2 separate regions of the Homo sapiens genome follow, and region 1 is linked to region 2. The links come from fine-mapping of genetic effects on gene expression. Tissue or cell type: whole blood. Region 2 holds a variant in brackets; the other region holds the start of a gene. All regions are shown on one strand. Distances are from middle to middle. Region 1 holds the start of ZNF706 (zinc finger protein 706). Region 2 overlaps LOC107984005 (a long non-coding RNA gene).

What was found. PIP is the estimated chance that this variant, and not a neighbour inherited with it, causes the effect.
Region 1: ZNF706 starts here. The variant in region 2 is fine-mapped to the expression of ZNF706 in whole blood (TOPMed, PIP above 0.99).

The regions. Positions count from the first base shown.
Region 1 is chr8:101,200,507-101,209,631 of GRCh38, reverse strand. ZNF706 (zinc finger protein 706) reads left to right here and starts at 3,959. Exons shown (of 4, transcript NM_016096.5): 1 at 3,959-4,197; 2 at 7,889-8,025. The coding sequence starts at 7,891. RefSeq lists silencers at 3,395-3,614, 3,825-4,424.
Region 2 is chr8:101,233,071-101,242,195 of GRCh38, reverse strand. The region is part of intron 1 of LOC107984005 (a long non-coding RNA gene); the gene reads right to left. Among named protein-coding and RNA genes, the nearest start is that of LINC02844, 25 kb to the left of the region's middle. The variant A/C (reference allele first, on the strand shown) is at 5,226.

The sequences.
Region 1 (9,125 bases), 33 kb after region 2:
TATTTACTCCTATGTTTTCTCCTAGGACTTTTATGTTTTAGCACTTACATTTAGGTCTTCTATCCATTTTGAGTTAATTTTTGTATATGGTATGAGGATAGGATTCAACTTTATTCTTTTACATGTGGATATCTAGCTATCCCAGTAATATTTGCTGAAGACTCCTTGCCCCATTGAATTTGTTTGGTGCCTGTGTTGAAAATCAATTGACTATACATATGAAGGTTTATTTTTAGACTCTCAATCCTACCTCATTGATTTATATGTCTAATCTTATTCCAGTACCACACTGTTTTAATTACTATAGCTTTGTAATAAGTTTTTAAATTGGGAAATGTGAATCTTCCAATTTTATTCTTTTTTCAAGGTTGTTTTGGCTATTCTGGGCTCCTTGAATTTCCATATAAATTTTAGAATAAGCTTATGTAAAGATACCAGACAGGATTTTGATAGGGGTTGCACCGAATCTGTGGATCAACTTGGGAATTACTGCCATCTTTACAAAGTGTTCTGATCCATGAACATAAGATACCTTTCCATTTATTTAGGTCTTTAATTTCTTTCAACAATGTTATTTAGAGTTTAGAATACAAGTTTTGCACTTCTCTTGGTAAGTTAATTCCTAAGTATTTTATTCTTTTTGGTGCTATTCTAGTAAATCACATTATTTTTTAAGCCTATTTTTAAAGTCTCTGAAATCAAGATGTATCTTAGAATCAAGGATATCAGCATTTTGTCATAGTTCAGTTGGCAGTATTTTTTAATCTTAGTGGACATAAATGTGACTTACAATTAATGGCTCCTTAGACTCAATACAATATGCTATTAAATGTGAATGTCTATAAGACATCAGAGGGGAGATGAGTAGTAGGCATTTGGATATGTCAATTTGGAGATAGAAATGTGGGGGTCACCTGAAGCTTGCTATTTAAAGGCACAACAGTGAATGAGATTCCTTTGGAGAAAGAATATAAAGAAGACAAGAAGATCTAGGTTGCATGTGTGAGAAATCTCAACATGCAGAAGCGAGTGAAAGAGAAAGAGCTGGTAAAAAATAAATAAATAAAAATAAATCCATTTCTGTTCTAAGTTTATTGTTGCCATTATTGCTGTTGCTATTATTTGCCACTAAACATTTGTCAGAATAGTCTGTTTATTGGGAAAATAATATGTTGATTAATCACCAATTCTTTCATCCCCCCAAATCCTACATGAATACAAATAAACAAATAAGCCTTTCAGGTCTTTAGAGAAGCATTTTAATCTGATTGAGATTTTGGATAGAAAATAGGCACATGTTTATTGCATCTTAACCTTGGGTAATTGTCTAAAGGCAGAAGAAGAAAAACAGTCAGGAGAGTTACTGTAGCATTCACAATTAAAGCCAGCAATGTGTATAAAAATGCTTCTAAGGAGTTCATATCACATTTGCTGTCACATTTCTATAACATAAGTAGGACACCAGCTGGTAGTAATGCTAATTCATCCGCCTTTCATTTACTGAGTGTCACTTCACAGATGTTGAATCTTATCCATTCCTTGTTTCTTTTTTTTTTTTTTTTTTTCAAATTCCCTAACCATCACATAAAGTTACCATTATGCCATATCCTCTAGGCAGTGGTTCTGAATCAGGGGAGACTTTGACCCCCTGAGAACATTTCACAATGTCTGGAGACATTTTTAGTTGTCACAACTGGAGATGAGGTGCTACTTGGATAAGCAGGTAGGAGACAGGGATGTTGCTAAACATCCTACAATCCCCAGGTCTCACAGAGCCCCATAATAAAGAATCATCCAGCCCAAATTTCAACGGTGCTGAGATTAAGAAACACTACCTATGAGGATAAGTTACATGATAAGTACATGAACTTTCTGGGGGCAAAGTCAATAGCTTTCACCAAATTCTCAAAGGAGTTATGACTCAAAAACTTAAGAAACACTAGCTTGAATACATATTTCATCTAGGCCATGGTAAAGAGTGACATATTAACCTACTTCACAATAGGAGTCACCTCTTTAGTTAAGAAGACATATCTCTGCCACACAAATTTCACTGTCCCTTTCCACTGTCTACTGTCATTCACGGCTAGATAAACACAGATCTTTGAAGTTCCCATTTCTAGGGCCAACAAGTACCCATCCCTCTATCAGCCAGATTAACACAACCATTAAGGTTACAGTGACTATTAGTGACTAAGCTAGAGCTTCATGCTATGTCAATTTAAAAGCTGCTTTCTTCAGACATACTCGGTTCATTTGATCAATATCCATTTATTCAACGTCTACTATGTTTAACATACTGCGTATTCCCTGATGAAAATAATCTTACAATCTAGGACTAGAGAGTAATTTAAAACTGCAAGAAGGAAGTCAGAGCATAAAAAGTGAAGGTGAGAGAAGCTGAAATGAGGATGAAGAGGGAGAACTGAACACCCGGATCACTGCATGCCATGTTTCATTTCGTATTTTTCTCCACTCAAATGCAATAGGCAGCTAACTCCTTCCTGGCTAGTTTAAACAATTCTGTGGTATCTATAGCCCAGTCCAAGTCATTTGGGATATACTAATATTCAGCCAACATTTCCTGGGCACTGCCACGCAAACTTGGGAAACGGCACTACAGGCAAGGTGAGAACAGCCAATGCAAACACTTTTTTTTTTTCTCCTTTGTCACTAGTAGTTCTAATTAGAAACGAATGTGGCGGGGGTCGGGGGTAAGTATGCACAATAAAGCTGATGTCTAAAGTACTGTTTCCAGATATTCAGCAATTTTAATCATGGTTATAATCGCCATTGCTCTTGTCAGATATTGAAAGTTTGCTGCCACTGCCTGTAAATGGAGAGAGAGCGCGCGCAAAGAACTTTAACCATTCCCCGAAGGATTAGCAACTCAGTACCGTATATTGTTAGCAGTCAAACTAAACCCCTCCGGGAAGCCTGGCCAGCAATTTTTTTTTCTTTTTTTGTTTTTTTTTTTTTTTAGGCAGGGTCTCACTCAGTCGCCCAGGATGGAGTGCAATGGCGCGATCTCGGCTTACCGCAACCTTCACCTCCCGGCCTCAAGCGATTCTCCCACCTCAGCCTCCCGAGTAGCTGGGACTACAGGCGCGGGCCACCATGCTCCACTATTTATTTTATTTTATTTTATTTTTGTGGAGACGTGGGTCTCGCTATGTACTCAGGCTGGTCTGGAACTCCTGGGCTCAAGTGATCCTCCTGCCTTGGGCTCCCAAAGCGCTGAGATTACAGGCGTGAGCCACCGCGCCCGGCCTAGCCAGCAATTTTTAATACGACTTAGGCTTGAATCTTGAACTCACTAAAAGCCCCCAGCTTGGGAAAACACCTGGGGTTTCCATGGGAGTGAGGTAAAGGGCGGCTGTGAAAGAACAAAGGCTGTGCGTCCGCGTTCAGAGCCGCTGGGTCCGCCGGGCTCGCTGGGGGCCGGGGCCGCGGTGTCCTGGGTGGCGGGGCTCCGGGAATGTGACTCAGCCACCGCGGCCCCGCGATCCGCTCCCGGGCCAGCGCCTCAGTCGGTGCCGAGGAGGGCGGCGCCGAGACGGGCGCGTCAGCCTGGGAGGAGCGGGAAAAGGGTCGCAGCGCCTGAGGCCCGGCCGCCGCCCGAGTGGATGAGCGAGCGAGCGACTTGTGAAACACGCCGCGGCCCGGTCACCAACCAGGACCGGGATCACGTGGCTCCCAGGGCTGGGTGAAGAAGCCGCCCGGACCGAGCGCGCCGGAGAGGAGGGGCGCCTGGGGACAGAAGGCGACGTCCCCTGAAGTTTGTGTCAGCCAGGGCCCGCCCCCTCGCGCTTATGTAATAGGGGCGCGCTGCCATTGGCCCGCGCGACCAGCCAGGGCGCAGGCGTGCGAGCGGGGTGGGGGCCAGAAGGAGGCAGCCGCAGAAAGGCACATGGGCGGGGCTGCGAGGAGCAGGCGGGGCGGGGGCGCCGAGGAGAGCGGCGCGGCGTGCGCGGGCACGAGGCGTAGTGGTCTCCCCTAAGGCTGAGGCGGCGGCGGGCGCGCGGCGGCGGCGGGCGTGCGAGGCTGTTGTGCTCCCGGCTCTCGTGTTTCCCCTCCTGAGCGGGTGGAGGAGGCCCAAGCGGTGCTGGGCGCGCTCCCCCTTCCTTTCCCTCCGGCGTCCTCTCCCGGCCCTCTCGCGCTGCACTGTCTCTCCGACGCAAGACTGTCCCGGCCCGGGTGAGCGGCAGCGGGGGCGGTGCTGACGCCGCGGGACGCCCGGGAAACGGGGCGGGGGCCGGCCAGCGGGGGGCGGTGGGGACCGTGGGACTCGCCGCGGGTCGCGAGGGGTCGCGGGGGGCGGCAGGGCCCGGCCCGGGGCGGGCCGCGGGAAGGGGATGAGTTCGGGCGCCTGCCAGGCCCTGCAGGTGGCCGGGTCGCAGGCCAGCCGCGGAAGCGGAGCGGTAACCTTACCCCCGGCGACAGCCGCCGGTCAGCTGCCAGAGTGTGGCGCTCCCGGTGGACGCAGGGGCCGGGTTTCGGGCAGTCTCGGCCTCCAGGAGGCGCGTCTTGGTCCAGGGTCCGTGAGGACTGGCTAGATGGGGGCTGCGTGGCCTTTGGTGGCAGGGAGGAGGAGGGGGTCTCCGAGGCGGGAGAGGCGGGTTTGGGAAGGAAGGTGCGCCAGGCTGAAGCTGGGGTCGGAGAAGTGTTGGGTGGAGACCTCACTGTGGGTGCGTTCCTCCTCTCCTCTCCCCAAAACGATGGTGTTAAAAGCTAGGGTCAGGATGTGGAGCGCTGCCTGGGCCTCTTCCTTTCCGATGGTTATGGAGAATGAGCCTACTTCCTGGACCCAAAATCCTTTTCTTCTGTTACTCATTTATGTTGGTTTTAAAAGGAGCTTTGGGGCAGAGCTTACTTGTTGCCTCCTACGAGAGCGCCTCATTTTAGAACTCGTTTCTTCCACTACTTCCCTCTTTGCAGCCCCCTCGGAAAACCACACTGAGAGTTGCATTAAAAACCAGCATGTAGGTATTTGTAAGTGACTTTTTCCCTCCAGTTTGTCGCATTTAATCAAGGAGCGGTTGTAGCTGCCTACGATTTTGTAGAAAATTGTGTTGGCTTGAGAGCAAGTCCTAAGTTGAGCTGTCCAAAAGCAGGTGGTTGGTTCGTTTGAATTTCTGCTTTCAGAAAGGAAATCGATGGGGCGTGTTGTCAGAAGTTAGGGGCCTACCTCATGCATTTAGCTTATTTTATTCCATTTCCTTTACCTGGTGTTAAGTTTTCTGTCTTCAGAATAAGAACAAGTGACTACTGTCTTTATTAAGTCTCTTCGGTCTTTTTGGTTGCTGTTTGGTGACAATGGAAAATGGGTTGAATCTATTGTGTAATGTTATATTTTAGGGAAAGTCCTAAGTGCAAAAGTTAAAAATAATTTTGTGTGTCTAATGACATTGCTTTGTACGAGTCACAACATGGAAATATCAAAATAGCTAGTAACTTCTAGAAAGCAAAGGAACTTCTGAAATTAGTGGCTTACCATTTTTGAAGATTTTTTTTAACATAAAACAAGATTTCCCACAAAATCAGTGTATTAAGATACATAAAATACATTGTGTCGAAGAGTTAAGATGTGTGAGAAGACTGGCTATTTTGTTACAAGGTCCTGATAGTAAGACATTGAGACAAAAAACCTTGCAAAACATTGGTATACATAAAGGCTGATCACGTGACTACTGTCGTCCAAATAATACATAAGTATCCAAACCTGTTTCCATGGGAATAGGTTTGTAAGCTTGCGGTAACATCGGACTTAAATACACTTTTAAAAAAAATGTGCCATTTGGCTTAGAATTAATAATTTTTTTTAAAGCAAAAATGGAAGCTTAGTCTTCAAGGACTGATAACAGCTGGTAATATTTACCATTGTTTGGTGGGAATGGGGTTCTCATATTAGGCTAGCACGCTAAACATTTTCAATTACGAAAATGTATTAGGCTCGTGTGCTACCCTAATATAAAAACCCCATATTTCCTCAGTTGAAATAGTCAGCTGACTATCCTGAAAAGCATTGACCCTCTTTTATATTTTATCTGACTTTCAGTTCATTTTTTTAATGCTAGTGGGAACTTCTCCAATCAGTGTATTTTTTTAGTTTCCTTTTTTGGGGAACAGGAGGAGCTCAGTAATTTTTATGAAATGCTTTGACCTCATATCCATTAACTAATTATGGTCCTAGTCAGAAGAAGCTAGCACCCTTCCCTGGTGAAGTTGATACAAATCCATTGTATGTTCCTGTCCTGCAATGATTTACATTCAGTTACAGTACTAGTCAAAACTATATATATATGAATTCTACTTAGGATCCAATTTTGATATATTTAAAAAGCAATTGAGACTCATGATAGACTTTATGAGCAGGTTTAACTTGTGTGGTCGAATAAAAGCCTTTAATTTAAATGGAAAAGTAAAAGTAACTTTTTTCAGTGACTTGATTTTTTTTTTTGTTTTAATCCATTTGGGTTCACGTCAGATCATCGGTAACAAAAAGTGGTATCTTTCAGCTTTGTAAAAGAACCCTCTTAACCAAGTTCATTCCCTCAAATGGGAACTAACGTCTAGAGAGCAAAGAAACTTCTGGAATTAGTGGCTTGCTGATAATCTCATTTTATAATTTGTTCAGCAATCCAGCAAGACCAACTTTTTAAAAAAATTAATAACAGTAGTTTTATGAAAACTAAGTAAGAAAACAGTTTCCACCTATTTCTGAGGTCTCCTTTAGAAGGAGTAACAGACAGCTTTTATTTCTCTTAAAGTTATAAAAATCACAATCGCAAGTCACAATGAATACTGGGAAGGGAAATTACTTTTGCAGAGTGATCAAGTAAATGATAGCGGGGGCTAAACTTTTTTAGTAAACTTGTGAAGATTACATACAGTAAAGTGCATAAATCTTGAGTGTACAATTCAATGAATTTTTATAAGTAAACACACTTGATTCAAGAACATTTTCAGGACCCCATAAGTCCCCTTCATGTCCTGTCTTCCCAGTCATTACCCATAACCCCCAAGGTGACCCCTTTCACTATAGATTAGCTTTGCCTGTTTTGAACTTTAAATAATGTATATTCCCCACAACTGGCTTCTTTCCTTTAACATTGAGATACAACCAAGTTGTTACTTGTAACAATTTTTTGTTTGTGTGTTTGTTTATTTATTTTTGAGACCAGAGTCTCACTGTCGCCCAGGCTGCAGTGCAGTGGTGCCATCACGCGTCACTGCAACCTCTGCCTCCCGGATTCAAGCAATTCTCCACCTCAGCCTCCCAAGTAGCTGGAATTACAGGTGCCTACCACCATGCCTGCCTAATTTTTTTTTTTTTTTTTTTTTTTTGTATTTTTAGTAGAGACAGGGTTTCACCATCTTGGCCAGGCTGGTCTTGAACTCCTGACCTCATGATCCACCCGCCTTGGCTTTCCAAAGTGCTGGGATTACAGGCGTGAGCCACCGCGCCTGGCCACAATTTTTTAAATGCTGGGTAGTATTCCGTTGTATAAATACTATAAAAATATGTATACAAGTTGTGCATCCGTGTTACTATTGATGGGCATTCAGATTTTTTCCAGTTTTGGAATGGGCACTCAGAACATTTTGTACATGTCTTGGTGTACATAACATTTGCATTTCTATTGGGTATATACCAAGAGTGGAATTGCTGGCTCATAGAATAAACAGCTACCAACTAGTTTTCCACAGGGTTGTGTCAATTGATACTTTTGTAGCATTTATATGTGGGAATTTTAATACCTATAAATTTTTATTTGCCAGATATTTCTATAAAACTTAAGGCTTCAATTCTAAGAACGTTCTTATGCTTTGATTACTCTGTATTAGAGTAAATAAGCCACTCTAATGCTTCACCTTCTGTTTTTAGATATGGCTCGTGGACAGCAGAAAATTCAGTCTCAGCAGAAAAATGCCAAAAAGCAAGCTGGACAAAAGAAGAAACAAGGACATGACCAAAAGGCTGCTGCCAAAGCTGCCTTAATATATACCTGCACTGTCTGTAGGGTAAGGGGAATTGAATTGAAAGATACAGCTCTCCCGTGGGCAGTTTTGGCTTGAATAGATTAAAATTTTGAAACCATGGCAAAATAGATGCTTTACATGAAATAGTAGGTTTGAGAGCTGATTATTTTAGGTATCTATTTTCATTCACCCTTTAAACAAATATTTTTTGAATGGCTCCTGTGGCCAGGCAAAAATCTCTAGGTGCTGGGAAAACAGAGTGAACAAAACAAAATTGCTTTCCTCATATAAAATAAAGATGTCTTCATAAGGGCATATAATACACTTCACTAGCACATCATATAACTCTACACTCTTAGAGCTATATAATATGCTAGTAAGTATACCTCTAGTTATATAATTGGTTTTTTCTTCACTAAATTTATAATTAGGATGTCTGTAAAACCATATAGAGTATAATCACGTTGAGAGCTTTTCCTAGAATTAATGTGTTGTATTAGATTTGAAGAACTGTAATAATAACAGCTACTTTTGAGTGCTTACCATATGCCACACATAGAGCCAGGTGTTTTACATGTATTCACCTATTTAATCCACATAACAACCCTATAAGATAAAGTACTTTTATTGTTCTCATTTTACAGAAGAGTAAACTGACTAATGGAAATTAAACAATTTGTGTGGGGTCTCCCAGCTGGTTAGTAGAAGAGCTGGAATCTGAACTCAGGCAGTTCAGCTCCAGAGTCCACCCTCTGGACCACTACTGTACTGCCTCTCAAAGAAGTACTTCTGAAATTCCAAATCAGAGCCTCTTGCCTGTTTGTTTAAGCTCATTACCCTTGAAGTTAGTGAGTGGCAGTACCAAAGGAAACCATAGTGGAGTTAGTACACTACATATACACTCAAAATAATGAAATTGAGCAGCTTGTGATTGTTTGGAAAGAGGCAGGGTGCAAATTTTAATCAACTAGTAATGAAGAAATACCTTAATCTAAATGTGGTAGAGTAGTTACATATATTTAAAAACTCAAAACCACAGACTTTTATTTCATATTTTGTGTAATTTAATGGGTTAAGAATAAATAATTGAAGGTTCTTGCCAAGGGAAGTCAGTATAGTATAGTATTTGAGAGGTCACATAT
Region 2 (9,125 bases):
TCAGCAATTTAAAATTAGTGAACAATGGATACATGTAACAACAAGGATAAATCTCAAAAACAAGAACTCAGATACAAAAAAATAGAAAACTAAGAGTATGTATCATATGATTGCATTTATAAGAAATTCTAGACAAGCCAAAAATAATCTGTGTTAATGGAAGGCTAGGATATTATTGCCTGTTGTCTGGGGCAGGAGCTGAAAGAAAGAAGAGAGAAGGTAACCTCCTGGAGTGACAGAAATGTTCTACATTTCAATTGAGGAGGTGATTACTTAGGTGTTTACATTTGAAAGAACTAATCCAATGCACAACTACAATCTATGAGTATTATTAGATATAAATTTTCCTTCAATATAAATAAAATTTTAATTACAACAATAAGAAAATCCCTTCAGTCTTTGCCTCATTCCAAGGGTACAGTCCATATCTGCTGGGTTGTTTCACCCTAGAAAAATCTGTGAGAGGCCGGGTGCAGTGGCTCACACTTTGGGAGGCCAAGATGGGAGGATTGCTTGAGCCCAGGAGTTTGAGACCAGCCTGGGCAACATAGTGAGACTCTGTCTCTACAAAAAATATTTAAAAATTAGCCAGGCATGGTGCATGCACTTGTAGTCCCAGCTGCTTGAGAGGCGGAGGTGGGAGGATTGCTTAAGCCCAGGAAGTCAAGGCTGCAGTGAGCCATGATCACACCACTGCACTCCAGCTTGGCAAAAGAGCAAGATCCTGTCTCATGAAAGAAAGAAAGCAAGAATCTGTGAGGGATATTCAATAATCCTTCAGATGTGGAAAGAATGTGGCATAGCGACTGGCAGTTTGCCCAAGTGGTTGGTGCAAACCTTGAAGCAGTTGGGTTTAGCAAAAGCTTTCATGCAAGCTTAAAACAATGCCAGTAACGTGTGACTGTGAAATTGTAACATCCCCGCTGGAGCCTGTGTCACTGGAAATCTCATTTAGAGTGAGCTCGCATCTCCTTCTAAGCCACAGAGCCTGATGAATTGCTCAGCTGCTCTTTCAAGCAGTTCCAGTTTCAATGGCAACTGGGGAAGGAAAAACCCCAGGTTTTTAGTGTTGTGAAAAAACAGTCCAGTATAAAAGAACCTAAAAGAGGAGCCAGTGAACAAGACTATAGAATAATGAGGCCACATGCTCTGAGTTTGCTCCTCTTTTTTCCCATTGCTAGTTTAGTCCCAGTTCTAGTTGAGCTTTGTAACAACTCCCTCCCAAGGAGGTTACTTCAACCAACATGTTGTAAGTATTTACTGTGACCCAGGTATCGTGCCGTGTCGATGCAATGCAGATAAAACACAGATCCTGATCCTTGGGAAAGTTAAACTAGTGGATATTAGGCTGCTGTCACATCCATTATGTAACTTGATCCTTACAACCTCTCTGTAAGGTAAGTAAAGCAGGAATAGTTACAACTCCCATTTCACAAATGAGGAAACTGAGACTCAAGAGAAATTAAATGAGTTGCCCAAGGCCACATAGCAGGTAGTAAAGCTGAGATTTGAATTCAGGTATTCTTATGCTAGGTCCTCTGTTCTTTCCAATTCATGATGAAAGTGTATATAAAATAGGTACGATTCTTTCTCCACTATAAATTCATGAAAGCCTTGGATCTGAAGAATGTTGGGAACTCGTAAGCACAGAGCTAATGGAAAGGGAAAAGAATCAGGACAGGCTCAGTCTAGCCCTCAGGAAGGCACCTAGGCTATCACTTCTATACTGTCTGAATGGATATGCAGATTACTGGCCTGGCTCAGACAAGTGGTCCATATCCACAGGGATGTAAGCAGATGAACAGATGATGAATGTTAACCAGGCGTCTTAGTCCATTTGGTGCTGCTATAGCAGAATACCACAGACTAGGTAATTCAATAAGAACAGAAATTTGTTTCCCACAGTTCTGGAGGCTATAAGTTCAAGATCAAGGTGCTGGCATCCGGTGAGGATCTTCTTACTGCATCCTGACATGACAGCAGATGGAAGGGCAAGTGAAAGATGGACAAGCACTGTGTCTTTACATGGCAGAAGAGCAGAAGAAGGCAAATACACTCCTGCAAGTCCTTTTTATAGCAGCATTAATCCATTCATGAGGGCCCCATTATCTAACTTCCCATTAGGCCCCACCTCCCAACATTGTCACATTGGAGATTAAGTTTCTGACACATTAATTTGGGGGGACAGTCAGCCCATAGCACTGGGGAAAGCTAGTCAAGTTAATTAATTCCATTCATTATTCATCAACAATGTCATTCAAAGGTCTCAGATCTATAGGTGAGAGGCACAGGAAGCACAGCATGGCAGGGAGAGCTTCGGTGTCCCAGCAAGAGAGGACTCACAGTAGGTTTCTACGTCTCTATCAGAGTTCTTGGTGGAAAGCAACAGAATCAGACTGTAGCTCCCTTGAGCAAAAAATACTTTTTTAAGGATACAGGTGGCTCCCAAATCTAAGAAAAAGTTGAGGGACCAGACCTCAGAAGGGGCAGGAATCAGGGCAATTCTCAGGATTCAGGTAGCAAGAATAAGTGAAAAATCTCTTCCCAGTGTCAATTTCAACAGTTTTCTATGCTTTTTTATTTTCACCCAAGATCAATTTCCAGTGGAGGAGACAGCCTGATTGCCTGAGCTTGAGCCATCTGCCTCCACTTTGGCAGGTGATGGAGATGCACCTTGAATAATAGAACCCTGAAAACTGTGTGCACGGAAACCATAGTAATGAACTTTTTATGTTGTTACATTAATATGTATTGATCTGTCTTGCACTTTGAATTAATCTTTTATACGTGCATAATTTTGTAAAGTCAAACATTGGTCATTTGGAAAATACTGGTTCACTGAATTATGCAGATCTTCCAAATATTGACACTTTCATTATATAATGTCAAAACAATCATGTTCACTAATATTGCCACTGATATCAGAAAAATCTAAATATTCAGAAGCTGTTAATAAAATATGGAAATCTATCAAGCTCACAATAGTGGATACACATTTTCCAAAATTCTAATTTTGCTCAAAAGCTTGAACTTTATCCCTGGCGTCAAATACTGTCAATTGGTTTCCCCAAAGAGGCTCCCTTTGTCCAAGTTTGAAATAATGTCTATAAATACTTATGTCTAAATAAACATAGTTTGTCAATCATCCTTTCAAGTAAAAAAATGAGCTAATTTAGCTTGCAGACCAGACAATCACATAAGTGCTTTCTTTTGAGATAACAATCATACTTCAACATGTAACAGAAGGTTACTTGTATTTTTTCATATAGAATATTTTTAAAAAGTATACTCAAAGGTCAAAGGTTAATTAAATTTAAAATATTGACTTTTTCTTCAAGGGCATCAAGTGAAACTAGCTTTTTCTCTTTTTCTGCAAGTGCATGATGGAATACAAAAATACAACTACTATTACTATCTTGTATATAGTGTGTGGCACCAGCAGTTTTACCCACCAGTGGTTTTGTAGCATTGGTGCAAATGTTACCTACAGTGAAAAGGACAAATAACACTTTAGTATTCTTTTAAAAACAGTTTTGATCTCACAGAATTAATGAAAGGGTCTAGGAAACCTTCAAGGGTTTATAGATGACATTCTGAGAACAGCAGGCTTAAAGTAATTAGGATCTAGAGCCTAGGGTGGGGTTACTTTACCCTGAATCATGTGGGGAAAAAAGCGAATACCGAAACAAAACTAGGATTATTTCAGGAAAAAATAAGGAGTAATAGATTTTGGTAGGCAACCAGTAGTGTCCACTACATATGGGCACAATATAAGGAACCATAGCATAGTTTATGTGGTTAGCTGCCATGGACTAACCAATAGGTATAAACACCTTCCTAAGTATCACCAAGACAACCGATGCCCACATGCGAAATAATGAAGTCAGACCCCCAACTCACACTACATACAAAAATTAACTCAAACTAGATCAAAGGCCTAAATGCAAGAACTAAAACTATAAAACTATCAGAAGAAAATATAGTAGCACGTTTTCAGGACCTTGGATTTGGCAATGATTTTTTAGTTAGGACATCAAAAACACAAGTAACAAAAGAAAAAATAAATAAGTGGGACTTCATCAAAATAAAAAACTTTCCTATATCAAGGGATACTAACAAGTAAGTGAAAAAACAGCCCCTCAAAATGGGAGAAACATATGTAAATCATATATCTGATAAGGATCTAGAATGCTGAATATACAAAAAACTCCTACAACTCAACAACAAAAAAGACAAATAATCCAATGGAAAAAATAAGCAAAATACCTGTATAGACACAATACAAATGGTCAGCAAAGAACATGAAAAGATACCCATCATCCTTAGTCACTGGAAAAATGAAAATCCAAACCTCAATGAGATGCCACTTCACACCCACTGGAGCATGCTTTCTATAGTCCCATCCGGGCTTGCTATAATAAAAAATTTAAAAAAAAACAGAAATTACAAGTGTTGGTGAGGATGTAGGAAAATTGGAATCCTCATATATTGTTGGTGGGAATGTAAAATGGTTCAGCTGCTTTAGAAAATAGTTAGGCAGTTCCTCAAAAAGTTAAATGTTGAATTACCATAAGACCCAACAATTCCACTTCTAGGTATGTAACCAAAAGAATTGAAAACACATGTTTAAAAAAAACTTGTATATATGTTTTCACCATAGAAATATTTACAGTAGCCAAAAGGTGGAAACAACTCAAATGTCCATCAATGGATGAATGGATAAATATAATGCAGTATATCCATACAATAGAATATTAGTCAGTCACAAAAGGAATGAAGTACTGAACCATACCACAGCATACTGAACTTTGAAAACATTATGCTAAATGAAACAAGCCAGACACAATGGGACACATATTGTATGAAATGTCCAGGATAGGCAAATCCATAGAGGCAGAAGGTGGATTAGTGGTTGTCATAGACTGGAGAAGGGGTAAGGGAGTGACTGCTTCATGGGTAGAGCATTTCCGTTTGAGATGATATTCTTCTCCAACTAGATAGTGGTGATGGTTGTACATTGTGAGTGTACTAAAGGCCACTGAACTGTACTCTTTAAAATGGTTTAAATGGTGAGTTTTGTGTTGTGTGATTTTTTTTTACCATAATTAAAAACAAAAAGCTGCATGACAGCAAGTGAGGCCTGGGGATGTTTTGGCAGATGAATTATGACAATGATGAAAGTCCAAGATCTGCAACTATTTTAAAAAGTAACCATCACACAATGC[A/C]CTAGGTTCAAACCATAACAGGCAAGTGATATCCTGACAGAGAGACAATAATTATACTTAATTCAACTGACAAAGCTGTGAGACTTAACTGGCATGGATGTCTTGTGGCAATTCACAAATATATAATTGAATAAATAAGCAAATATACCTCCCTGGAAAAAGTGACAGAGTGAATCAAAGTACATTTGGCTCTAAATGTGACACTTGAAACAGACCTTGAAAATATTCTCATTTTATTTTAGAGATATTCTCATTCTCATTTTAGAGACTTACGAAGAACAGTTACGACTTGCTTAAGGTTCCATAGCTAGTTAGTAGGAGAACTTGACCCAAAAGAACCAATGTCCCACCTCTTTCCACCACATGATGTTCATAGTCAGGGCAATTCCATATGCACCTCTCAGAACAGTTGTCATCTGAATGTTTGTGAAGCCAAGGATGACTACATTTTCCCCGAGTATCCTCTGGGCTGCTAGACTACATGTGCACAGAGAAACCTGCCATCTACGTGTCCTACCCATGTGCTCTAAATCTTGGCTTGTGCCACCACCCAAGTTAGAGAGCTGGCTCCTCTACTTCACCCCCTCCTGTTCCAGAAACCAGTCACCAAAACTTCCAGTTGTGACTTTGGAACATCTAGCAGATTTGGACTCTTTCCCATTCTCATCAAGATTCCCTCACCTTTTATTTGGACTATTTTATACCACTCTTAACTGCCCACAGTTATCCACAGGTGAATACAACACTGACTCAAGAGACACGTGACTCTGAGGTGGAACTTAGTTCCAATCACTAGGACACCTACTATTGCTATCGATAGAATAAAATCTGGGTACTGTAGTATTCCCTTCCCTGGGTACAGTTCCAGACTAACAGTGACTACGTTTAAAAGACTCTGACCTTAACAGTGGCAACTGTGACAAAGTCTTGGTACTTTGTTCCTTCAGATGCACAGAGAGCAACTTTGACTTAGTATCACAAACAATACGGGATTATTTGGTTTCCTTGGTAACCTGCGGTTCTGCCCTAGGTGACAATCAAAGACTGTGGAGGTGCCAATTTTTTTCTAGATCTAAAAATTCTCATTCTATGAATATCTGGGGTTGTAGACAGCCTACTAAAGGGAGACTGGTACAAAAGTAAAGCTATTAAACTTTAAGATATGGGAGCAGAGGCAAAGCTGGCTGCCTGGGAGGCAATCTGGTGCAATTCAGGAGAAGAAAGATTGTTTCTTCCATGGGCAGAATGTGCTATCAGAAGCGTCCAACAGCAATCCTAAATTATCATTATCAGAAGTTTAAGTTATGTTCCAGCCCATCCTATTAATAAAAGCAGAGTAGTGCTTTTTTGTTTTACAAAATGGCTACAACCTATACATATCAATAATTAAATTGTGATTTTTTTTTTGAAAATGTTCTTATATTCTCTGATAATAGATGATGAGCTATTACTGTATTGTACTATTAGGAGCACCAGTTTTAAGCACAGACATTCATACTAGAGAGCAGAGGTTAGTGTCTGATTAATCCAGCAGCTTCTGGAGGGACAGGGAGAGAAATAAGAAAATCTTCAAATGGAACCTGAAGCCCCGAGAAGCTGCCATGTCATAGCTGGTCCTTCATGCAGGAACAGAGTGCACAGTCAATTGTGACCAATATTCTTGAGCAAGATAGGCTAAGGGTGGCTACTTTCTTTTAGGTAAGATGTGTACAGTTTTGCACTGAGGGAATATCAATGACCTCCACCAACTCCTTGCTTACAGTCCCCTTTGTTTACTGTTCCCATCAGTTTCTCTCTCTCTTGTAAGGAGTAAAGATCTTGCTAAGTTGCCCAGGCTGGAGTGCAGTGGTGTGATCATAGCTCACTGCAGCTTTGAACTCCTGGGCTCAAGCCTCAACTTCCAAAGTAGCTAGGGCTTCAGGTATGTGCCACCACACCTGGCTAGTTTTTGTTGTTGTTTTCTTGTAGAGATATGTTGCTGAGGATGGTCTTGAACTCATGGCCTCAAGCGATCATCCCACCTCGGCCTCCCAAAGCATTAAGATTACAGGAGGGAACCTGTCACATCTGGCCAGTTTCTCTTGATACAAATGTCTCCATAAAGAGTTTGGGAGAAACTTGTCAATTGGTGTCAAAAACACACCAAAAGACACTGTCAGTGGATCTCACCATGGGCCCTGGGGTAGTAACAAAAGAGATCAAGACATTTTCCATTGTTATTGGCTGAGCCTTGTCTACAGAGGCCTGGCCCCACAGAGCATCATTTGGGTCTCCAGAGGGCCTCATAAAGAGCAAGCCTTTGGCCAGGCACGGTGGCTCATGCCTGTAACCCCAGCACTTTGGGAGGCCGAGGTGGGCAGAGTGCCTGAAGTCAGGAGTTCGAGACCAGTCTGGGTAACATGGTGAAACCCAGTCTCTACTAAAAATACAAAAAAAAAAAAAAAAAAGACAGCCGTGGTGTCATGTGCCTATAATCCCAGCTGCTCAGGATTAGGCTGAGGCAGGGGAATTGCTTGAACCAGGGAGATGGAGGTTGCAGTGAGCCAAGATCGCACCACTGCACTCCAGCCTGGGCAACAAGCGAGACTCCATCTCAAAAAAAACCAAAAAAACAAACAAACAAAATAACAGACTAAAAAAAGAGCAAGCCTTCCTGCTCTGGACAGAAGAGGTGGCAGATAGCTAACCAAAATCTACCTTTGCTGCTGCTAAATGCTGGGTTAGAGAACACAGATCAGAGTAATCGCTCAAATGGGTCTGCTTACTGCAGTCTAAGGTTAGCCACCACCCAGGGGAAGGTGAAGTCTGCAAAGCAAACACTTCCAGGTGGCAGCCTTTTGCTAGTCCAAATAAAAAACGAAAAAAGACAAGACCAAATCCTACCCCATTCACACAGAGGTGCTGTGGGAGACACACTCTATGCAATAAACAAGCAGGGACAATGACTATTCCCACCATCTTAGGGCTCGCACCTCCTTGGTCGTAGAGGAAGCGGTGGGGTGAGAGGCAGCTGTATTTAGGGAAATCCTTTATAGCACTATCTGGCTTAGAGAGGAGAGGCAGCCCCATGTTTGTCTAACTCTAAAACAAACAATGGTTATAAAACCTTATTAAACCTTGCTGGGTTAGAAAATAGAAATATCTCAAATATTGATCCCCTGCCTGTCAAGCTTTGAGTTCTAAAGGCTGTTCACTTGCAAGATCTGCTTTGCCAAGACCCCGAGGCTGAAAATCCTGCAGGGGTGCCAGGAACAACAGGTGGCTTCCACACCTGGAGTGTAGTGTGTGCCTGGGGACAGGGTGGCTGCCCCTCCTCCACCCCCAGTGTCTGTGGGAGCCTTGAGCTGCTGGCATTCTATTAAACACCACTCGGATGTGCCAGGGACAAAGGTCTTCTGCCCAGAGCCTCGGTGCTTGTCCCTATTCCAGCTCCTTCTAGGGGAGGATCTGGCCCTCAACCTCTTCCCAGTTGGCTGGAGGTTCTCTCCCCTTGGCCTGGTTCCTGCCAGCTCTTTTCCTGTCTAGATTTTACCTCCCCTTCATTGGCTGGATACTCCTTGGATACACGCAAGGCCCTGAGAACCACTGTCACCACACTTTCCTCCTCTCTCCCTTCCTCCTTGGATCAGATATTGAAACCAGGCTTCTCCCCTTGAGTGCTGCTGACATTTTGCCCATTGAGGCAAAGAGAACTGGCAGGAAATGGCATTTCTGCTCTCTGCAGACACTTGCCTGGCATGGCACAACAAGAACCAAGGGTGAAAAGCTTTCAGTCTCCTTGTGTTCTTCACCCTCTTCTCCAGGCCCTCTCCACAGCCTCCCATCTTCAGCGCTTTCCTTCATCTTTCTTGGACTTATGTTTTCCTTCATTCTCTACTATCCACTTTTCTTCCTCTTCCT